Regions from separate parts of the Homo sapiens genome. Here all the other regions are linked to region 2. Evidence: fine-mapped QTL for protein levels in blood plasma. Region 2 holds a variant in brackets. A gene starts in each other region. All regions are shown on their forward strands.

The links. PIP is the posterior inclusion probability: the model's chance that the variant is causal. The UK Biobank Pharma Proteomics Project read protein levels with antibody pairs (Olink). The fine-mapping took linkage between variants from a reference panel, not from the people measured, so its PIPs are less certain.
Region 1: it holds the start of CHCHD10, and the variant in region 2 is fine-mapped to the plasma level of the CHCHD10 protein (UK Biobank, PIP above 0.99).
Region 3: it holds the start of BCHE, and the variant in region 2 is fine-mapped to the plasma level of the BCHE protein (UK Biobank, PIP above 0.99).

The regions. Positions count from the first base shown.
Region 1 is chr22:23,765,502-23,773,649 of GRCh38, forward strand. CHCHD10 (coiled-coil-helix-coiled-coil-helix domain containing 10) reads right to left here and starts at 2,471. Exons shown (of 4, transcript NM_213720.3): 1 at 2,333-2,471; 2 at 1,873-2,092; 3 at 627-774; 4 at 333-525. The coding sequence starts at 2,373. The coding sequence ends at 506. C22orf15 (chromosome 22 open reading frame 15) reads left to right here. Exons shown (of 6, transcript NM_182520.3): 6 at 220-362. The coding sequence ends at 231. It overlaps MMP11 (matrix metallopeptidase 11), which reads left to right and starts at 7,348. Exons shown (of 8, transcript NM_005940.5): 1 at 7,348-7,477. The coding sequence starts at 7,370. It overlaps LOC107985577 (a long non-coding RNA gene), which reads left to right and starts at 2,725. Exons shown (of 3, transcript XR_007068022.1): 1 at 2,725-3,292; 2 at 5,686-5,806; 3 at 6,368-6,876. RefSeq lists enhancers at 9-808, 809-1,608.
Region 2 is chr6:89,328,502-89,336,669 of GRCh38, forward strand. It overlaps UBE2J1 (ubiquitin conjugating enzyme E2 J1), which reads right to left. Exons shown (of 8, transcript NM_016021.3): 6 at 6,801-6,930; 7 at 4,585-4,704; 8 at 1-1,456. The coding sequence ends at 1,178. Among named protein-coding and RNA genes, the nearest start is that of GABRR2, 17 kb to the left of the region's middle. The variant G/C (reference allele first, on the strand shown) is at 1,450.
Region 3 is chr3:165,834,025-165,842,208 of GRCh38, forward strand. It overlaps BCHE (butyrylcholinesterase), which reads right to left and starts at 3,399. Exons shown (of 4, transcript NM_000055.4): 1 at 3,290-3,399. RefSeq lists an enhancer at 3,217-3,511.

The DNA of each region.
Region 1 (8,148 bases), not on the chromosome of region 2:
GCAGAGAATGGGATGCAGAGGTAGAGACAAGAAGGGTAGAGGTGGCAGGTATCCCTGATAAGGGGGAGACCATGGGTTCATCCTGGGATTCCACCCTCAGAGTCAGATGCCCTTGGGATCACCGACTAATGCCTCTCCACCTCACTCTGGACTGCCCAAGGAATCTGTCCTGTGCTACCCACAGTGCAGATTGCAACAGGGCTCCTCCTCCCCACCCAGGGCCCTGATTAAGGGGATGGATTGCACACTGTAGTGAGACATCCATCCTGACCCCACCTCATCAGCCAGGGAGCTCCCTGAAGACAGGCCATCGAGAGAGGCACACAACAGGCTGTGGTCTAAAATAAACTTTTAATTGCACATTTGTGTCTTGGGTTATCTGTGGGGTGAGAAACCTCCTCACTTCCAATCCCAGCTATCTGGGTACAATCTGGTGTTGTGGTCTGGCTGTCGGCGAGGGGTAGAGGTGGGTGCAGGACTGGCCCCCGAGTCTGCACCGACCTCTTCAGGGCAGGGAGCTCAGACCTGGGAAGGGAGGGGCAGCACAGGCTGGTGGTCAGCCTGCAGGTGCAAGAGGAGGGTTGGCCTCTCCCCCTCCCCGCCTGAGTCGGGGTCCACTCACTCACCATGGTAGTACTTGCACTGCTTCAGGGCCTCGCTGAAGCCCTCACACAGGGACAGGTCACTCTGAGTGGTGGAACAGTCCAGGAACTGCCTGATCTCGTAGGCGCAGGGCCCCATCTGCAGGGGCTGGGGGGCAGCGGGGGTGGGGGCCTGGGGGTACAGTGCAAGAGGCTGCAGGATCAGCTTGGAGTTGGCACCTGGAGGTGCGTTTCAAACCTGGGGCCACCTGCCCCTCCCCACATCCCCAGCCTGGGTGTCCCAAGGGTCCTAGGCAGGCTGAGTGATCCAGCAGCAGAGGCGGCTACAGACAGCATGTTTCTGCTGCCTTTTTTTTTTTTTTTTTTTGAGACAGAGTCTCACTCTGTCACCTAGAGTGGAGTGCAGCGGCGCAGTCTCGGCTCACTGCAACCTCCGCCTCCCGGGTTCAAGTGGTTGTCCTGCCTTGGCCTCCCAAGTAGCTGGGGCTACAGGCGCCCGCCACCATGCCCAACAAATTTTTTGTATTTTTAGTAGAGAGGGGGTTTCACTATGTTGGCCAGGCTGGTATCGAACTCCTGAACTCATGATCCACCCGCCTTGGCCTCCCAAAGTGCTGGGATTACAGGCATGAGCCACTGCGCCTGGCCTCTGCTGCCTTCTAATGGGCACTTTGGGCGGGTGCAGGAGAGGGAGGAGAAGGCTCTAGGAAAGCCCAGTACTCTGCCTGTACTCTCAGAGTATGAGCCCCACCCCCACAAGTTCTAGCACCTTCCTGGCTCAGCTACACTAATCCTCATGACCCCTGACCTAGCCACAAAGCCACATTTGGCTTACGGCGGTGGGGTTCCTAGCAGGGGAAAGGTCATCAGGGAAGTGGCTCCCCTTCGCCCTTGCGCCCAGCGGCCACAGTGCCCAGACCTGGGTGTGGGGAGAACAGGGGCTCAGGAAATCCAACATCCCTCCCCTCTGCTAGGGTGAGGTGACCTTGGGCGAGTCTCTGAGCCCTCAGGGCCTGGGTTTCCCATCTTTAAAGGGCTGGTTGGTGTCTCTCCCTGGGAGCTTAGGGACCCTGGCCTCAAGGGAGAGGCCGGGAAGCCTGCCTCTAAGTGACAGTGAACTCAAGACCAGTGGACTAGGACCCTTCCCGGGCAGAGTCCTGGGCTGAAGCAATGGTGAATACACGCGGACACTCCTCACTGGACACTTGGGCAGCTCCCTGTGTGGCCTCGAGATAATCCTGCCTCAGTTTCTCTTGGACTCGCTGCTCACCTGCTGGACAGCAGGCTGGGAGGGCTCCGAGCTCCCCCCGCTGAAGGCTCCGGTCAGGGCGCTGCCCATGACGTGTCCCACAGCCGAGCCCACGGCTACCCCTGCGGCCGTGGTCGCCATCTGAGCCATGAGCCCCGGCTGGCCCGAAGGGGCGGGGGCTGGGGCGGCTGCCGAGGGCGGTGGGTGCGCGGGCGGGTGGGCAGAGGGCGCGGCTGGGCGGCTGCGGGGGTGGGAGGAAGCAGGGTTAATCCTGGCCAGACCCCAGGCTGGAGGGCTGCAGCTCCTGGAAACGACCCCCGGAGAGATGGACGACCCACGTCTCCACACGTGGGTGCTGCACCCCCACCCCTCCCCCCGCCAAGATGGCGCAGCAGCAGCCAAGGTCACTCTGCGGACGCCCTTAGGGGAGTGCCCACACTTCCCTAACCCCCTCCCCACAGGGCCCTTGTCCCCCTCACACCTGGCTGGCCGGGAGGCCGCGCTGCGGCTTCCCCGAGGCATGGTGGCGGCGGTGGGACCCGGGCGACCTTAGAGACGGCGGCAGCGGTGCTGTCGCGGGGACAAATGCCGCAGCGCTTGTCACAGCCGGCGCAAAAAAGGCGGGGCCCCGGGCGGGGCCTCAGGAACACGCCCCCAGCGGGAGGCGGCACTGCCCCCAACCCTATCCCCCTTCTCCCGTCCTCCGGACATCTCCCTTCCAGCAGCTCCGGGTCTCGGCTGGAAATGGGACCCTGCTCCCTCCCTGCGCCTGGCAGGCTGTGCGGGTTCTGGGGACAGGGGCCAGTGTCGCAAAGCGCCGAGGGCTTAAGGAGGGCGACAGTGCCTTCTGTTAGGACCACCGCAGAGGGCAGGGAGCGGAGTTGGGGGTTGTTGCGAGCCCTGGAGGGGAGAGGAGACGGGGAGGCGACGGGATGGGGCCAGCTGGGAAGGGGACGCGAGGCTCCAGGCTGGACTCCGCTCTCTGCCCCCTCCCGGACTCGGCTGTCTGTCCCCTCCCTCCAGACAGGGTCTGCTGACCACCGCGTGGCCTGGGAGTCTCCGGTGGCCTAGGGAAGTGAAGCGCGGCCCTGGGGAAGGCCTGGAGCAACCCATCCCCAGAACTCCCACGAGGGGGCGTCCCAACCCGTCTTCGACTGTTGGCCAAAATGCGCTGCCAATGCTGGCAGCCTTACGCAGTGCCCGCGGGGGATATGAGGCCCCCCGCGCGGCCCTGAACCCCACCGGATTCCCCGGGCCGGCCCGACCGCCCCCACCTAGTCCCTGGCCCCGCGAGTGCAACCCCCGACACTAACGGCCTTTACGCGACATCCGAGCAGCGTGTCTATCCCAAAGGCCTAGGAGCATTTGCCCGGCTCGGTCAAATCTAGCGCAAGTTTGAAGCCTGCGGCCTCGCAATTTTAGCAGCTTCGTTCCAGGCCAGGTGAGCTGGAGCGCGGATTTAGAATGCTTTCCTGCTCTTCGAGAACTTGAGGTTTTAATTTTACTTTTTACTTTTTTTTTTTTGACACGGAGCCTTGCTCTGTCGCCCAGGTTGGAGTGCAGTGGCGATCTCGGCTCACTGCAACCTCCACCTCCCGGATTCAAGCAATTCTCCTGCCTCAGCCTCCTGAGTAGCTGGGACTACAGGCTCGTGCCACCACACCTGGCTAATTTTTGTATTTTTAGTAGAGACGGGGTTTCACCATGTTGGCCAAACTGGTCTCCAACTCCTGAGCTCATGATCCTCCTACCTCAGCCTCCCAAAGTGCTGGGATTACAAGCATGAGCCATCGCGCCCGGCTGAGCTTGAGGTTTTTATGGTCTTTTCTGGGTGACTTTGCAGTGGTCATATTATTACTCCTAGGTGGGGGAAGGTAGGGACTGTCCCTCATCACTGCTGTGCCTGCAGAGGACTCCTGACACCGGGATTGTCGGCAGGGTGCAACCAAGAGCAAAAGCACCCAGAAGTGGGGGTGTGGGTCACCAAGTAAGAGAGGAGGCCCCTCCATAAGGAAGGAGCAGGTCAAGGGGCAAGGGGAGTGGTGGCTGGGGCGTTTGGCCCTGCCTGGCATGCTCAATTCTGTGTGTGCACAGCTGTCCCCAGCCATGCATGCTCTCCATGGAAGTCAGGTGCAGCCCTGTGTTCTCTCACACTGCAGTCCTTTCAGCCAGCCTGTGAACAGGGCCCTTCCCCGCCCTGTCTTCAGTTTCTCCTCTCTGAAGGGGGGTGACCACCCACCTTGAGGGTGGCCTCCCAGTGAGGTGAGCACACCAAGGGTGGGCCATTCTTTCCTGGCAGACTCACCAGGCCTGGTCCAGCCGCTACTCCCTTGTTCATGCAGTCCATGCCACCTGGTTCCTGTTTGCCACACCAAACAAACTGAACACTTCTCATGGTGGTCCCCGGGCCTAAACTGCAGAGAGTTGTTACTTCAGCTCCCATGGCTGATGGACTGCAGGTTCCACAAAGCATGGCCTTGCACCTCGGAGGCACCCAAGACCACTTAAGTGGGTTACACAAATGAAAATGAGGCTGAAAGGATGACACTGAAGCAGGCATTGAAATGCCAACTTTTTTTTTTTTTTTTTTTTGAAACGGAGTCTTGCTCTGTCGCTCAGGCTGGAGTGCAGTGGTATGATCTCCACTCACTGCAACTTCTGCCTCCTGGGTTCAAGCGATTCTCTTGCCTCAGCCTCCCGAGTATCTGGGACCACAGGCACATGCCACCATGCCCCGCTAATTGTTTGTTTTTTGTTGTTTTTTTGTTTTTGTTTTTGTTTTTTTAAACAGAGTCTCACTCTGTTGCCAGGCTGGAGTGCGGTGGTGTGATCTCAGCTTACTGCAACCTCCACCTCCCGGGTTCAAGTGATTCTCCTGCTTCAGCTTCCCAAGTAGCTGGGACTACAGGCACGTGCCACCATGCCCAGCTAATTTTTTTTTGTATTTTTAGTAGAGACAGGGTTTCACCATGTTGGCCAGGATGGTCTCTTGTGATCCGCCTGCCTCAGCCTCCCAAAGTGCTGGGATTACAGGCATGAGCCACCACGCCTGGCCTGAAATGCCTACTTTTTAAAAATGAGTCACTTTAGCGGGGAATAGTGGCTCATGTCTATATCCCAGAACTTTGTGAGTCCCAGGCAGGCAGATTGCTTGAGTCCAGGAGTTCGAGACCAGCCTGGCCAACATGGTGAAACCCTGTCTCTACAAAAAATACAAAAATTAGCAGGGCATAGTGATGCACACCGGTAGTCCCAGCTACTTGGGAGGCTGAGGCAGGAGGATCGTTTGAGCCTGGAAGGCGGAGGTTGCAGTGAGCCAAGATCACACCATTGAGCAAGACCCTGTCTCAAAATAATAAAAGTAAATAAAAGTGAGTGACTTTAAAGAAAAGATTGCCTTTCAGGCGCGGTGGCTCACGCCTGTAATCCCAGCACTTTGGGAGGCCGAGGCGGGTGGATCACCTGAGGTCAGGAGTTCAAGACCAGCCTGGCCAACACGGTGAAACCCCATCTCTACTAAAAATATAAAAAATTAGCTGGGCATGGTGGCGGGCGCCTGTAGTCCCAGCTACTCGGGAGACTGAGGCAGGAGAATGGCATGAACCTGGGAGGCGGAGCTTGCAGTGAGCCGAGATCGCGTCACTGCACTCCAGCCTGGGCGACAGAGAGAGACTCCGTCTCAAAAAAAAAAAAAAAAAAAAGAAAAGATTACGAACAGTGTAGGTTGTAAAAATTACTGCTGTCTTACTTCTCCTCGCCCTCTAGGAGTCTCTGTGGAGTCTTCTTGAATAAGCTGTGAAACATTTCCCCACCCGCTTCCCTTTCTTGGCCCAGGCTTCCTGACCACAGCCTCACCTTTGAGCAGCTCAGAGCCCTGCCTGCCAGGATGCGAGCCACTGCCTGGATCGTGGCTCTGCAGGGCCACCCATGATGGAACAGGTCGCCTGGTGAGGTGGTGAGGCCCTTCATCATTTCAGGGGGTGTACAGCAGTACTGGGTAACCCCGAAAATCAGGGATGAGACTGAAGGATCCCTTCCAGAATGTGGACACAACCCCTCCTTTGAGTCTCACCTCCTTTCCTTCTTTTTTTTGAGATGGAGTCTCGCTCTGTCACCCAGGCTGGAGTGCAATGGAACAATCTCGGCTCACTGCAACCTCCGCCTCCCGGGTTCAAGTGATTCTCCTGCTTCAGCCTCCTGAGTAGCTGGGCTTACAGGTGTGTGCCACCACACCTGGCTAATTTTTGTATTTTTAGTAGAGACAGGGTTTCACCATGTTGGTCAGGCTGCTCTCCAACTCCTGACCTCGTGATCCACCTGCCTCGGCCTCCCAAAGTGCTGGGATTACAGGCATGAGCCACTGCGCCCGGCCTCTCGCCTCCTTTCTTTCAAGTCTGAGGTGGCTAGCCTGGAGGGGTCCCCAGGGGCTTGTTGGGCACTGACGAGGGGACACCCTGGGGGCCCAGTACTCCACTCAGACACCTCCCACAGCCTTCTGACAGCATCCTTCCCACAGCTGACCAGCTAGAGGACCTCCTGACCCCTCCACTTGTCTGCTGGTGTGGAAAAGCCTGGACCCTCCCTCTTGGAGCCTCAGTTTCCCTATCTGTAAACTTCGGTCTATCCCAAGCTGAAGAACTGGCCAGTCCCTGCCATATGCCTCACTTTCCCCTGGGACACATTTTAATATCCCTTTCCTGGCCAGGTGCAATGGCTTCCCCATGTAATCCCAGCACTTTGGGAGGCCAAGGTGGGCAGATCACTTGAGGTCAGGAGTTCGAGACCAGCCTGGCCAACATGGTGAAACCCCATCTCTACTAAAAATACAAAAATTAGCCAGGCATGGTGGCGCACGTCTGTGGTCCCAGCTACTTGGGAGGCTGAGGTAGCAGAATCGTTTGAACCTGGGAGGCGGAGGTTGCAGTGAGTGGAGATCACACCACTGCACTCCTGCCTGGGAGACAGAGTGAGACTGTGTCTCAAAAAATAATAATAATAAAAAATAAAATAATATCCCTTTCCTCACAGGGGCTATTGTGTCATCTTCTAGAAGGATCCGTTGAGGCTCTGAGGGGTGGGGGAACTTGCTTGTGGGTAGGACCACCTGTCAGAGGTCAGAGGTCAGGCCACCAAGGAGACCCAGTGGGATGCGCCTTCCAAAGGTGGGGGTACGGATGGGACCCATGAAACCTGACTCCTCTCAGACTCTAGCCAAGTCTAAGACTTTGGACGGCCACCACCCAGAGGAGAAACTGAGACCCAGAGCGGCACGGGTTGGCCAGGGTCACCCAGCACCAGATAGGGACTTTGCCAGCCCCGGGGCAGGACCCTGTCTCCGGCCCTCGACCCCGCTGGGCCGTACCCTCCCCGTTCACCTCCCCCACCCGGGCCGCGGCTGCTAGGAGAGTTCAGAACAAAAGGCGGCGGGGGGCGGGGCCGAGGCGGGCCGGGGGTGGGGCGGAAGCTATAAGGGGCGGCGGCCCGGAGCGGCCCAGCAAGCCCAGCAGCCCCGGGGCGGATGGCTCCGGCCGCCTGGCTCCGCAGCGCGGCCGCGCGCGCCCTCCTGCCCCCGATGCTGCTGCTGCTGCTCCAGCCGCCGCCGCTGCTGGCCCGGGCTCTGCCGCCGGTGAGTGCCCGCCACTCGCCGGCCGCTCCTCGCTGAGGGGGCGCCGGGCACGCGGGCTGGGCCCAGCGGCGGATCCGGACCGAAGGGGGCGCCCCGGGTGGCCTCCAGCGCCCGGTACCCGAAACGCTTTCTGGTTCCCTCTAGGCGTGATAGACAGCGAGCTTGCAGTCCCTGGGGGTGTGAAGGGGAGCCGGCGCCGGCATCGTTCGGGCTGGTGGGACGGGACTCCACGCTGGACTCACGCTTGCTCCCAGCGTGGGGACCTGCCTCTCGCGCTCCAGCCGCGGGTGCTGGAGTGTGCGTTGAAGGAAGCAGCAGAGGGAGTGGTAACAGGGCCCCCTATTCATCGCAGGGACAAAGCCGAGCAGATCCCAGGCAGGTGTCAGCCTGCAGGTGTGTGGCCGCAGTTAGTACACCTCCAGGTGTGCGGTGGGATGAAGGATAAAGGGAGAAGGGAGGGCAGCGCTGTGCTGCGGGAAATGGGGTCTAAGCCTGGAGATGTCCCCCGCGGGCACCTGCCGGCAGCAGTTTTGGGAGGCTTGGAGCCAGGAGAACATGAGTATGAAATAGTATGAGTGCAGTGTGTGTGTGACTGAGAGGTGGCTGTCAGAAAGAAGCGGGGAGAGAAAGGAAAGGGAGAAAATGTGTGCTCAGGAGAGGAGAAGAAAGCC
Region 2 (8,168 bases):
CATTAACAACACCCTCAAGAGTGCCCTCAGTGCTGCGAACTGAACATGCTGAAGGCAATGTTTTTCTGTGATTATATGGTTTCACCAGCCATTATGATGATAATATTATCTACTAGAGTCTGTGGCGCTAGCTAGCACTAAGTTATATATTGATTTTTCCACTGAAAATTCTTTCTTGGGCTCTGACTAGGTGGACAATTCTAAGTAAAGGTTTTTCTAACTTCTATCACTGTTACTTGGGCCCTGAGGTTTTCTATTAAAATAGGACATGAAATATTTCAATATTATGCATATTCCTGGAATAATTAAAATTTATACTGATTATAAAGCTAGGCATATAATACATCCCAAAAGACATACATTTCAAAGCAGACCAAACATTCAAATCTTCAGATCCCCCCATTTAACTTCTGGAAGAAAACCAAGCGATCTCCTGGCTTGGGCCCTTTCTTCCTTAAAAATCTATGGAAGACTGTTTTCTTTCTTTTTAAATTTGTGTGATTATGGCAGCAGAGGGCAGGGGGTGGTGATAACAGCATATCAAAGTGGTTACAAAGTACTCCCTCTTCAAGTAGCATCCAGTGACAAAGATGTGATCTCATTTCCTCATAAATGTTTGACTGAAATAAAATTATTTTCACTGAAGAATGTTTAGGACACAAATAAAGTCACAGAATGAGCAATTCCAGTACATCTCCTATGAATGACATTTTAAGGAAGCTACTTGAGGAGTTTTGCTTTCCCTTTTCAACTCTTCTATCCCTATACATTCTACATACGTAGAAACAGAGTACTCAATAAGTGGTATTGAGTAACTAGTAATACTCATTGGAACTTAAAACATCATCTTTTATCCAAAAATTTCAAAGGGCAATATAGGAAAGTATTACAAATTTACATAAAAAGAAGATGAAACATGAGAAAAAACAAGTTATTTCCCTGCAAAGCAGATCAAATAGTGAGACAAGGAACTTTGACTTCTAGTCCCTTTAAGCAGGACGTAACTGCTAGACACAGTCTGAATGTCTAGATATATTTATACTAAACTTACAAGGATCAAAAAAAGGAATGAAGGGTAAATACAAAATAATCTTTTTGTAAACAATTCTTAGATTATACCCAATGCAGAATGTTTAATGAAGCAGTTGAGTCACAGCTCATAAGTCACAAAACCATATTATAACTCAAAGTCAAATATGTATTCGTTTGCCAGATATATTCGTCGGAATATAAGAGCTGCCAATGCCAAAGTCAGGATGACAATCAGTACAGCTGACCCACCATGATCAGTGTGGTTGTCTCTTGGCTGGTGGCCCTGGATTACATCTGGTGAAGTAGACAACCTTCTCTGACTCTGCTGCTGGGCCCGGCGCTGTCGAGGGCTCATGGAGGTATTCTTAGCTACAGGTTGGGTAGGTTGATGAAAGGATGCTGCTGAGGAATTCTGGA[G/C]TCCGTACTAGGAAATTTTAAGAAACTTTGTTTGAAACTGGCAAAGAAGATTTGTAAATACACTTGTTATCTATTCAAGAATACACAATCTCAGAGGACAACATATGACTAAGGGCAACACTACCAAGAATGATTGTTACTAATAATACATCCCTTGAGGGGCATCTAAATTTAGGTTCAAAAAAAAGTCATAAGTTAGGACAGCTTTTTGGCCTTTTAATAGTTTTATTAATATATTTAGAAAAACAATCCCTTAAAACATTGGTCTAGATGATATTTTAACACATACGCTTAATGAAAATATGTATATACATATAATGTTTTAATTAGGTTCCTATGTTTCAGATGCCTTTTGTCTCTATTTTTTTAATCATTATTTTTTTAGAGATGGGATCTTGTTACATTGCCCAGGCTGGTCTTGAACTCCTGGGATCAAGCGATCCTCCTGCCTTGGCCTCCCAAAGTGCTGGGATTATAGGCATGAACCAACGTGCCCAGCCTCAGATGCCTTTTGGATGGTATATCACTAACTAAAAATTAAGTGCCTTGATATTATAAAATTCTAAATTTTTTCCTATTTAAAACAATCATACAGCACTTTGGGAGGTTGAGGCAGGAGGACTGCTTGAGCCCAGGCATCTGAGACCAGTCTGGCCAACATAGTGAGACACTATCTCTACAGAAAAATTTTAAAACTTAGCCAGGTGTGGTCATGCCCACCTGTGGTCCTAGCTACTTGGGAGGTTAAGGCAAGAGGATCACTTGAGCTCAGGAGGTTGAGGCTTCGGTGAGCTATGATCACATGCCTGCACTCCAACCTGAGCAACAGAGTGAGACTCTCCCTTAAAAAGATAAAAAATCACATTCTTAGTTAAGTCCCTAGTGATATATATATAAATTTTTCTAGAATAACCAGCATGTGTGAGGGAGTTTTGCTTTTTATTATAAAATGAAATGGCTTATTCAGAACCTCGATCCCTACCCTGGGAAAAGGAGAAAATCTGACAGACTGCAAGAACAAAACTGCCTTCAGTGTTTTTCCCATTTCTACATTTCCCATTGCTTTTTGATGCTAAAATATCTGCATTAAAAAGCAACAGATGGCCTGATGTTATCTGAGGTATTTAGAGTTGTGGCAATCTCTTGCCTCTCCTTCAGGCTAACAACAACAAAAAAATCATAGCTTATCTGGGATTTGATGTATAACATCTCAATTAATTTATATTATACTTAATGTAAAATAACCACCCTTAGCCAAACCAGGTTTCAGTTACTTTCATAGTGGTCAAATTATATAATCATACTCTGAGATAGTTTATATGTAAATATAATTAAAAACTTAACTTGCAATTTTAGACAATTTATTGCTTGTTGGTATTTTCACTAAAAATAGTCTCAATTAATGACCTGTATCTATGAATAAGAATTCTAAGTTTTATGTACTAAATCAAAACAAGAAATACTACTATAATAACATCATTATTTGTACACTCTAATTTACTTAAACTTCTTGATTTATTTAATTGTATTCTTAGCATTTTTTAAAGTACCAATCCTAAGATTCATTCATTCAATCAACAAACAAACATTGGCAATCTACTATATAGAAGGCACTAAGCCAGGCACTGGGGATACAGTGGAGAAGCGGAAAGAGACCCCTGACCCTCACAGAACTTACATTCTGGGAAGAGAGATAGACAATAAATAATTACAAAGTAAATTACAACTGGAATAAGTATAACTGGAATATGTAACAAGGGGACTTAACATAGATTGAAAATACACAAAAGATTTAAATACATCACAAACATTAGGAGGCTGTCCTAAAAGGTGAAAAAAGATTACCACCTTCCTTTTTGTAATAGAATGCTTCTATTAGAAAAAAAACTATGAAATAAAAAGTAATTAGAAAGCTTTTTCAATATCTTGAACTAAAACATATTGACCTTAAAATTAATTCATTGTTTTCCCCTGCAATTCATAAAATTACATTGGGATCACACAAAAATGATTTAAACTCATCGCTACACACTTTTTTCTTGGACCTCCATCTTCAGTCCCCCTAGACTACCACCCTGTTCTTCTTCAACCAACTTTTCTCTGCCCAGCTCACTCTCTGAATAGGAGAGACTCACTCAAGACTATTCACTCCCACTTTACGTACGTTATTGCTGGGTAAAGGGCAAATCTATATTTGCCCAACTTCTATTTCAATTTTCCCTCACCCTTTAAAGTCTTCAATAAACTGGAGAAACAACAACAAAAAAAATGTGACTACTTAACCAAACAATCTGTTACCAAAAAGACTTCCAAAGACAGTTAATCTTTTATATATAGGAAGGAAAATCATTTTTTTCCCATAATCCTTATTTTTTGGCACCAATCCAGTCATATTTTTTAAATCACTCTCTCTGATCACCTAGGCCAAACAATTTCTTAGACAACAGGTCAGGGCACCACTAACAACACTCATAGCATTCATTCTTTTATTCAACAATTATTTATTGGACACTTAGTATATACGAGGTAGCATTGTCCAACAGAATTTTGTGATGATAGTAATGTTTATGTCTACACTGTCCAATATGGTACCCATTAGCCACATGTGGCTATGGAGCACTTGAAATGTGGTGTGACTGAGGAACTGAATTTTAAATTCTACTTGATTTTGATTAAATTTAAATGTAGACACCTGCATGTGGCTGGTGGCTACTGTGTTGGACAGAGCAAGTCTAAGTAAATTTTTGGCTCTACGACTTTATTAAGTCAGTACCTTAATGCAGCTGAACAATCCTGCCAAAAATAGTGTCTATTTAGAAAGTGGCTAACATATGGATATTTTGTTTTATTCAGTCTAACACTATATTAAAATTAACTTTTCAGAGAATCACAGAATTCTGGAGGGACAAGACAAAAATTATTTAATCCAGCCCCATTTAACAAAAAAAGAAAACTGAGGCCAGAAAGCATGAACAACTTGCTCAACATAATAATTCATTAGCGGGACTGATGAGTTAGAATCCAGTTGTTAAGAGAACCAAATTTTTCAGATATTTGATCCAGGATCTTCTCCTCCTATTGCAAACAGTGATAATGATAGAGACATACATATATATTAAAAGATAAGAGCCATACCGATGTACTGGCCGTAGCACCCTGGAATGTTGTAGGTATATCATCTTGTAAATCAGTTAGTGAAAAAGAGTGGTTTAAGTCTGACTCAGAGATAGTCTTTCCAGATGAATTGACTTCTGCCTATAAACAAGATAGACCCAAGAGCAGTGTGACAACAGGAAACAACAGGAAACATACACAATCTACAACCTGCTAAATCCTCTCTGTTGGATTTATTTTAATTGCTAGTTTAATATCTATTATCAGGCAGTTAATCACTGAGCACTCTTGTGTCCAACACTGTACTAGGTATCATAGGAAGAAGCATACACAACACCTGTTCTCAAGAAGCCGTTACTTGATGAGGGACAAAACTAACACCCATGGTTCACAATCCACAATGCTAAAAAGCTCTCAAAACTCAAGGTTTTTTTGGTAATTTTTAGGCAAAGCCTGATATGAGCTGATGTGAACCTATGAATAGTCTTTATCCCACATTAGTGTAAACATTAATCCCACATTAATGTAATATTCCCAGATTTGCTGAAGAAATCCTAATGGATTTGATTATGAGGTGCTGCCCCAGATCGCACGGCAGGTTAGTTAATATATGGTATATGTAAGATCTTTTCTTAAGTCTGAAAAATTCTCATGTACAAAACACATTTGGTCCTGAGATTTTTCAGAAGCAATTTTAAGTGTAATAGGAATCCTCAGAAGGAAGAAAGTAAACATGTTCTGAGCAACTCCTCCTCCAGGCACTACAATAAAAGAGAAGGGAACTGGACCTGGAAAGACAGACAGTCCATAGAGAAGTGGAGAGGGAAGAGGAAGAGAGCATGCTGCTTAATGCAGGTTGACATTTCTGTTTGTGAAGCTAATTAAATTCCAGAAGGATTAAATACTTAATACTTTACGTCTGTATGTATGTATGTATTTATTTATTTATATTTTTTTGAGATGGAGTCTCACTCTGTCACCCAGGCTGGAGTGCAGAGGCACAATCTTGGCTCACTGCAACCTCCACCTTCCAGGTTCAAGCGATTCTCCTGACTCAGCCTCCCAAGTAGCTGGGATTACAGGCACACACCACCATGCCGAGCTAATTTTTTGTATTTTTAGTAGAGACAGGGTTTCACCGTGTTAGCCTGGATGGTCTCAATCTCCTGACCTCGTGATCTGCCTGTCTCGGCCTCCCAAAGTGCTGGGATTACAGGCGTGAGCCACTGCGCCCAGCTAATACCTTCAATAATTAAATATTTAATACTCAAAGTATTAAAATATTATATAATCCTATGTTCGGGTAAAACATATACAGAAAAAAGGGATATATAGGAGGGATGCCAAAATATTAACAGTAGCTATTTCTTGGCGGTGAGATTATGAATGTCATTTTCTTTTTCTTTTTTCTTTTTTTTTTTTTTGAGATGGAGTTTCGCTCTTGTTGCCCAGGCTGGAGTGCAATGGCGCGATCTCGGCTCACCGCAACCTCTGCCTCCCAGGTTCAAGCAATTCTCCTGCCTCAGCCTCCCGAGTAGCTGGGATTACAGGCATGTACCACCATGCTTGGCTAATTTTGTATTTTTAGTAGAGACGGGGTTTCTCCATGTTGAGGCTGGTCTCGAACTCCTGACTTCAGGTGATCCGCCCGCCTTGGCCTCCCAAAGTGCTGGGATTACAGGCGTGAGCCACCGCGCCCGGCCATCATTTTCTTCTTGTTGCTTATCTATATATTCTGTAATAATAGCTAGAATTTATTAAGCACCAGGGACAGTTCTGAATGCAACACATGTATTACATATATTAATTCAATCCTCACAGCAATCCTATGATTTAGGTACCATTATTATTTATAGATAATAAAAAGGCACAAAGTGGTTAATTAATATGTCTGACATCATACTACTAATAAGCAACAGAGCTGGGATTTGAACCCTGGCATTGTATACCAGAGTTCAAGTTTCACTCCCTCACTATTCTATAAAGCTTTCATGAATGTAGTTAGGAATTTTGTAATAAGAAAAACATTCCATGCCAGTATTAAAACATTTCATGTACCCTATACATATATACACCTACTATGTAACCACAGAAATTAAAAATATAAAAATATGAAAAAAGAAAAACATTGGCAAATGTCATATTGTAATAGAACTGCATCGCTTTCCTTTCTATGCAGAATCCAGCAGTAAACAAAAGGGTTGCAAGATTAGCATTTATTTAAGAATTTATAGTACCTTAAAGCTTATTTGCCTAGCCAGTTCTTTGGCTTCTTGGTCAGCTTGGCTTGAATCGCTTCCAGATTTTAAAGGCAACAGGACATCCTTCATGGCAGAGCCACATCCTTCACAACAGAAATCTTGTGATCTAGTAGAAAAAGATTTTTTAAATGAAAATAAATAGTTAAATGTTTAATTCCCTCTCACTGAGACACTCAAATGCTCGATCATTAAACTTAAAAGAAAGGAACACTGGAAAATTCCACATCACATTTATCCACATGCTATGAATTAGAAAATTAATGTAATGATTATAGTCCTGAGACAAGTAAATGTTAGGCTGGCTTTAAAAAAATCCAGGGCTCAGATGCTATTTTTTCCAATAAACTATCTAAAGAAAAATAAGTTTTACATCTATACAATGAGAAAATTGTCTATTATACTGTCCTTGAGATCACATATAACAAACCTATTTTAAGGCTGTGAAAAAAGTCCTTTAACAAGATCAAATTATCTGTTAGCAGAAATATATATAAAGCAGTAAAGAAACTAATTAAACATAGAATTTACAGATATTTCTAGGGAAAAAAAAACCCCTCACAAATAGCAGTATAACTTGAAAGACTTGGGAGAACTTGCAGAAAATCCAAAGACTTAATTTATTGCTGATTATACATTAGGTAGAGACTCAGGATATGTCTGTTAACTAGATTATTTTCTAAAATATATTTGTTTTTCCATTTTTCCCTTTGTATTCCAGATATAGTCAAAACTTCCTTGAAGTTTACAAGAGTCCTCTGAGGATATGAATGACTGAAAGTAAACATGCATCATATATAAAACATATATTGTTACACTGTTAAACTTCCTTCTAAAAAATTGTTTTTCATAGTACTTCTAGTTCTATTAAAAAACCTTAGGTCTTGAAGAACATGCTATTTAAAATTATGAAATATCATATAAACAAAATATATGTAAAAGTAGCAATAATTTAGTTTTTCTGTTTGTTTGTTTGTTTGTTTGAGACAGGGTCTCCTCGTTCTATCACCCAGGCTGGAATGCAGTGGTGCAATCATGGCTTGCTGCAGCCTCAACCTCCCAGACCCCAGTGATCTTCCCACTTCAGCCTCCCAAGTAGCTAGGACCACAGGTGTGTGCCACCACACCCCGCTAATTTTTATTTTATTTTATTTTTTTTTTTTATTTCATTTTATTATTATTTTTTTTTTTGTAGAGACAGTGTCTCCCTGTGTTATCCAGATTGGTCCAGAACTCCTAGGCTCAAGCGATCCTCCTGCCTCAGCTTCCCAAAGTCCTGGGATTACAAGCATGAGCCACTGTGCCCAGCCTAATTTAGTATTTATTGATGAGTATTTCTTGTTTTAC
Region 3 (8,184 bases), not on the chromosome of region 2:
ATTGAAATAAATTTTGGTCTCTGATAGTTTTCAAACTTGTTCTACAAACAGTTTATATTATTGCAAAGCAAGTACTATAGTTGCTACAAAACTGTATTTGTGTTTTGTGTAATTATGAAATGTGATGTTTCATTGTTTATGTTAAACAGTTGCTATAACATCTAAATGGTTGTAATATCTTCCCATGTCACTTAACTTGATTTAATACAAAATTTATTATATGTTGATATTTATATTTTATGCTGAGTAGGTCTTGTTATATAATAATATGGTATGAATTAAAATCTTTAATTTTTCGATAATGATATCTGAGTTATCAACTTGCAAATAATGTAATTGGTAACAATCAAAGCAATTCTTGTAAGCATGCATTCATTGCAAAAATGACAATATAATGCTAACTCATATGTATTGTTGCAGAGTGTCATATGACATATTATTTAATGTGTACTTTAATATAAAAATATGCAGATGTTCATATACTGTTAGTGTATTGTAGGCTAATGTTTTTATATTTAATTGCAGTACTTTATTTTTTAAATAAGCATCACTTTGCCCTTTTTATAATCTGGTATTATCTATTCTAACATGCTACTCTGTAGTTTTGCCATTAAAAGACTTTAAAAATTTTGATATGTTTATCATGTAATTGAGCAATCGAAAGAGAAATAAATGAAAATAGAATAAAAATATTGAGTCTATATCTCAAAATTTTTATTAATGATTAGGATATTCAACAAAACATTATCGTTTTTCTTTTTTTTAATTTTATTATTATTATACTTTAAGTTTTAGGGTACATGTGCACAACGTGCAGGTTTGATCGTTTTTCTTTTAATAAATTCTGGTGCAATTGGATACTGTCTCACATGATTCTGAGAGAACATAGTAGCATAAACATTATCATAAAAATGGGGCACATTTTCACAAATACAGCTGTGTATCTGAATTTAGATCAATTTGCTTATCAAAATAGTATTTAATATTGGAAATAAAGACAGGAGTTTTTGTTTGGAATTCAGACCATTCTAGTTTTTGAGGAATTGAGTTTTTGAGGAATTTGAGTTTTTGAGGAACTGAGTTTTTGTTTGGAATTAAGAAAATTTACTGGCAATTTTTGAAAATGCTAAACTGTTATAACAATAACTTTCAAATAAAAAAGGTGACAAATCTTTTTTTGTATTTTTAATTCAATTTTGAAAGTACTATTAATATTCCCTAGCTGATTTTAACAAAAAATACTAAATGTTATACTATAAGATGTGAGTGTGATAAAATAATTTGTATAAAGAGCTATTTTTTGGGATACTTGAATATCAACCAGATTTTCAAAATAAGGGACAAGCCAAGAATTTTTAAAAGATGTTCAAGCAAATATTCAAAATATTTTCCCTGTGTATAATTTCCCTATCTTTTAAAAAGTTACAATTAAATAAATATTTATTTCTACTTGGAAATAAACCCTCTTAAAATGGTAGAGAAAGAGCCATCTAGATAATATTAATATGATCTAGAACAAGCTCTCTTAAATGTATTTGAAGAAATTGGAACAACGACGTCTTTATATCAAACTTAAAAAGCTTGTTTTGTTGCAGACTAAGTGAAGTGGGGAATTGAGGAAGTCTGATTATAAATAGACTACATCACTGTCTTTCAGGGATTCTTCAGCTATGCTTTAGGCATGTATACATATAGAAGACACTACATTAGATATAAGAAACTTAAGATGTTTTATCTGTCCTCAATTAGGAAGAACATTTGCAAACTTCATTGTGTGAATAATTTGAACATTTATTAGAGAGATTTCTTGAGTCTTCTCTGAAAATTAAATCTCCTCTTAGGTTGCTATCTATTCAATTACAATTCTCTTAACATCTGGGACCGTCTAATTTTGGTAAGAATGAGCAGATGCTGGCAAGAAACCATCGAAATGAAGATAATATTCAATGTAAATATATATTATACTTATCAAGAAATGACTCGAAGAAGGAACCAAATTTATAGATAAGATGTGACTTGTTTAGCTATTAGTAGCTTATGTTTTATAAAAATGAAATATGGAATACATCCCAAACATATTTTTACAATTAAAAAACTAGGACAATACAAACAAACAACAACAACAAAAAATTAGGAGAACAAAACAGAACTTTGATAACCCAATTAGAAATTTATTTGGCATCCAAAAGACTACTTTATTTTATATCCAGAGAAAATTCTGAAGATTTTTATTCAAATGTTAAAGTCACACTTTAAAAGCTCACGCTTATCCTTAAACAAAGTAACTACTTATATAAGTAAACTGTCATTGTATTTATTGTAACTATGAGATAGTTTATATTAAGGAAGGCATTACACAGACTAGTGACAGGAGCTCCTAATTGAGTTTATTATCATGAAATATATTCATAAAAATGTAGAAGACATACTCATAAAATAAAAATATATAATAAATAGAAATCATAAACAATGAAATCACATTTCAGTTTACTTTTAGTCATTCATAGATTTTATAATCCTTAATATTTAATTCCCTGGTTAAAGTGGAACTGATGTTATCAAAATAATAGTTTTACAAGATTATAGGATGAGCAGAAAGTACATTTGCTTACTATTTCTATAATAGTAAAATAATAGCAAATGTAAAATATTTTGCTACAATTTAAACAAACATATAAAAAGTGAACACAAAGGGCAAAGGGGACACGCTCATAAATCACTGTAAATCAAATTAGAAAACAGGTTTTGTTTTTATTTACATAAAATAAACAGACCTCTCATTTGCCAGTTGTTACTGTTAAAGTTTTAGGTGACAAAATGTTGATTGAGAAAAGTATTTTGTTCAGGAAAAAGTAAGTTAACTACTAACTTTATCCCATTTAAAAAGAAAAAAAAAGGAAGACTAATCAAAGATTACTTTTACAGAGAGATTCAATAAACAATGCATTTAAGGGTAAGCCAGTATGAAATGTTTTTTCTTAGGAAACTCACTAAGAATATATATCACAGTGATTCCACACGTGCTATGGTCCTTTATACAGAGTTGAATAAATTCATTATTTTCTCAGCAGTTAAATAAACAAAGTCTGCGTTCCCTGAATAATAGGAAGATTTGATGCATGTGCCTGCTGGCTCACTTCCTCTGTCCCATTTGCAAGCTTCAGTAACTGTTCCCCACAGAGCACCAAAGGGACACAACAAACACATGAAGAGATCACTCTCATCCCACAGAATGAGCTTTACAGTAACTTGGATCTCTACACGAAGGTGTAAATTCAGAGCAACTTACCCGATTCTCTGCAACAAAGATGGCAAAGTTTGCAAGGAGTGAAAATCATGTAATACTTCGGGGAAATGCAGGATGCAGCTGCTGCTCCAGCCTGTAAATTGGACTGCACTGACATTCAGTGTTACTGAATGTAACAATCAACTGTTACTGACAAAGCTCGCGAGAGTTGGCAGCAGCAACTTGAAATCTGTTCAGAGGCTAATGGTATAAATGCAATAGTGATTCATTTACAGAAGTATTACAGGATTCATGCTTTACAATTGCAGGTAGTCTTCTAAGAATGAAGAAAAAAAGCATAGAAGATTCTTTAACTAAAATAATCTGAAATGTAACAGAAAATGCATGTTTCTTTTAACTCTAAACTTTAAAAAAATTTTCCTTTTTTTAAGAATATACATATTTCCTATGCTTGTCTTAAGATTTAAAGACGTATACATCATTCTAAAGTAGTGCTATTATTGAAATCCATTATAGCTTCAATCTGTGCTAATTATATAGTTAGAGAAGATAGTAATATAGAAAATAAGAAACACAATGCTCTAGATATAAGCTATGCAAATCAAAAACTTAGTTCTATTAACTGAATGGATGTCTCTGATATGTATCTCCTTTCAACCCCCACACTTCAACACTTATTTAAGTCATACAAATTTCAGCATTGGTAATTTCCTATTCAGAAGACCCTGCAGGCAGTCATACATGATGAGAAGCCACAATTTTCTGGTCAAGACAGGAAAAATAAAATGAATAACCTTCACCAAACTCTATAAAAGAGACACATTTGTCAACTTGCAGTGCACATGCTCTGGAGAATATATTTATGTCTTTGGCGCTTATCTTTCTTGAAATGATGTTCAGGAAAATAATTTTTTAAAAAACCTTTGATAAACTCCTTAATCCCTATCTTCTCAATGCAATATATTCTTAATCTTCTGTAAGTGATAGCTTTCACTTTTGAATCTCTTACTTGTGGGCTTTCTATGGACTAAACAGAAGGCATGTATTAATATTTGCAGGTGAGCACTTTTTTGCCTTTTAATAGAGTGTTAAATTTTCAAACAAGCAAATATAATTAGCATTTGTTGTAATTCTACCTTATGCCAGTCATTATAATTGACAATTTATATTAAATATTTTATATTATTTCAGCAAATATGAGAGTTAATATTATTAACCACCTCATCAGATGAGAAAGCTAAGGTTTCTACAAATCAGAAGCTTACTATATTTCTTACCACTAGTAGCTGTTGGAAAACAGAATTTTAATCTGTATTATTCTGTTATTTTATGTCAACTGCTTCCAAGAGAATAACCATTTTGGTCTTTTAAAATTATCTTTTCTGTGAAAATTGCTACTTAGGCAGTGTTAATTCAATGATAAATATCATGATCACAATAATTTATAATGTATTTAGAATATAGTTTATGTAATAACAAGTTAGTTACACAAAAGGTACAGAATACATAATCTATCTGAAAAGGAGAAAAAGGAGGTGGAGCACAGTGGTTCATGACTGTAATCCCAACATTTTAGGAGGCCTAAGTGGGCGGATTGCTTCAGTCTGGGAGTTCAAGACAAGTCTGGACAACATAGCAAAACTCAATTTCTGCAAGAAAATGGGTCAGACATGGTGGTGCAAGCCTACATTCCCAGTTACTTGGGAGGTAGCTGAGGTAAGAGTATCACCTGAGCCTAGGAGGTCGAGGCTGCAAGCCACGATTGTGCCACTGCACTTCATCGTGGGTGACAGAGTGAGATCCTGTCTCAAAAAAAAATTAATCAATAAATCAATAAAAGCAGGAAAAGGCTTTTTAAATGGAAGTATATTGACAAATTTGCAATGGTTTTTATAGTGATGGCATTTCTGTTTAAAATATAGTAAATCTGATGTTCCACATGAGAGTTCATGGGTTCAATATACATGATTTTTAAAAATCCAAATGTCAAAATTCTTCTCTCCAACCCAAGTCCACTGCATTGTTTCCTGTGCTAGCATAAGGTCAGCCTATCAAACGCGGCAATTATTAAGGAATATTTTGTGACGTTAGTGAATTCAGCAAAGCATTTTACATGCTTCCTGCATCTACTCACTGCTAGGTAAAATATGTCACATATATACACATATTTCATTTTCATCTTTAAACAGGAAGCCAAACAATAAAATAATTGGTTTCAAGCAGATCTTTATCTTTAACGCATGTTTAAACTGGCTAACTAGCAACATCAACTGATTACACAAGTTGGCAATTTTTCTTCTTCTCAATGTCTTTACTTCAAAGAACCACCTTCTGTTACTGTCCCTGTAGTTCTTTTCCTCGCATGATTTCACAGCTATGCCACATTAGTTCATTCATTATTTTAGTGCACCTCTAAAGCATTTATTCTTCCTGTCTTGAGAGTTTCTTCCTTGTGGCTCAACTTACAGCAGCTGCTTTGCTTCTGTGGTGTCATCATTTTCTCACACTCATCCAGCGGAAGGATGTAGGTCACACACAGTGAGCTTGTTTCAGGGTTAGTAGGGAAGCACTATTCCATTACATCACAGCATGGATGGTTAATGATCCTGCTGTTAAATGTTGAGTATGCCTTGTAAGCGACACTGATGAAATACCACAAGACACTTGACACGGCATTAACACTGCGCACATTTTGCAACCATATATGCTGAAGCTTGGGCAGGACAATCATTATGGTTTTGGCTCTATGATCACTTTCAGTTAGCCAGTCACAGTGGTTTTTTGCTTTTAAGGTCCCATTGTAACTCAGTTACCACTGTTTTCTAGATAGCAGCATTCAGTAAGATTTGAGATGGTGTGAAAAACATTAATCCTGTATTATACATTAGTTTTCCTTAGGCATACTGATGCCAAAAAAGTGCTCTAAACTTATATTAATTTTATTCATTTTTTTTACAATAGCACTGCATTCTCTGAAATGAATATGGATAACAAAGAAAAGTATATATAAGTATAGATAGATAGATAGATAGATAGATAGATAGATAGATAGATAGATAGATAGATTTTTTTTTTTTTTTCCTGAGATGGAGTCTCACTCTGTCGCCCAGGCTGGAGTGCAGTGGCAGGATCTCGGCTCACTGCAACCTCTGCCTCCTGGGTTCAAGCAATTTTCCTGCCTCAGCCTCCTGAGTAGCTGGGATTACAGGCACCCACCACCAAATCTGGCTAATTTTTGTATTTTTAGTAGACACAGGATTTCACTATGTTGGCCAGGCTGGTCTCGAATTCCTGACCTCAGGTGCTCCACCAACCTCGGCCTCCCAAAGTGCTGGGATTATAGGTGTGAGCTACTGCATCCAGCCCAGAAAAGTATATTTCTACATTTTACATATCACAGAGAATGAAAAGACCATTTTGTATATTCCAATCAATTTTTTAAAATATGTGTATGTGGTTATAGTTACATAGATAAATATAGTGGTAGTCAAATGGCTTATCATCATTCTTCTTGCTTTTTATCTTATGATATTAATTTCCTATTAAAATATTTTGATTACTGTGTGATATATTATCATATGGGCATATTATGGTTCATTGTATCTCTTGTTACTTATATGATGATAATAATAATTTTAGGTAATAAATATTATTTGAAAGCACTATTCTATCCACTTTGAATACATGAATTCATTTAAAACTCATGACTACCTTTAAAATAAGCACTATTATTAACCTTATTTTACATTTGAGAAAATATAGCCACAAAGAGTTTAAGTAACTTGCTCCAAATCATACAGATACCGAGGTTAGCTTCTGACTTTTTTTATGTATTATTACAATAGGCATTTTGTATATCGATATTTGAGTGCATCTTTTAATTATTTTCTTAATTTATTTTCCCAGAATTGGAATAACCAAATACGACATGGACAAAGTACATATACATATATGTGTGTGTGTATATATACATGTGTGTATGTATATATATTTATATGTATATTCAATCTTCTGAAATCCTACACAGACTGTTGAATAGAGATAACTTTCCAACAATTCTGGCAAAAAAGAGAAATGTTCTTATAATCAGAACTAACCTGAACATGTCTCTGGAGCCCAGGTACTAGACCCTCATAGCTGGATGTGGCAGGTGTTTGAAGGTGGATATCTCCAGAGATATTAGAAGTAGGTCCAGAGCCACAGGTAATAAAATTCTTTAGTGATGTTGTAGCAACTAATATGGAAGGCCTTGCAGGAAGTGACATCTGTAAGGGATAACACATAGATATTTTGGGGTTAAGGGAGAGTGAGTGATGGGAGGTCTGTGGTGCCTTTTACATGAAGATACAGATAGTTTGGTTAAAGGAGTTTTGGAAAGAGACAACAACAATTTGGTGAGACACTAGAATATTAGACTCTAAGAACAGAAAGAAAATCAAGAAAAAGCAAGAGCTTCTAAGGAAATGTGGTGCCAAGTGGATTTTCATGGAATTGGCAAAGCCAGCAGAATCAAAGTAAGAAAACAAATTCTGAACTAAATTGTTCAGGGCTTGAGCAAAAAAGGAGAAACTCATTGTTTTAAAACATAAAAAAAGAGAGAAAAACAGCAAGCTTCTTTGTTTATCACCTAATTTACTGAATTGGCTTAAATTTACTCTTCCCAAACCCTTGACTATCTTTGGAGTCTCACTCTCAGAAAAATTGCAAAGTAACACATTATCAAATTCATCAAAGTGCTATTTAAACATCCAGATTTCTAGGCCACATCCCTGGGCTTTGGTTTCAGTAGACTTGAGGACAGCGTTATACTACTGTCCTCTGTGAAGCTGATAGAGGGAGTTCACAAACTACACACTAAGAGGCAAAGTCCTGGAGCTTGGATACTAAGGACATTTTTGTGCTACCATATATATATATATGCTTTTTCTTTTTTTTAA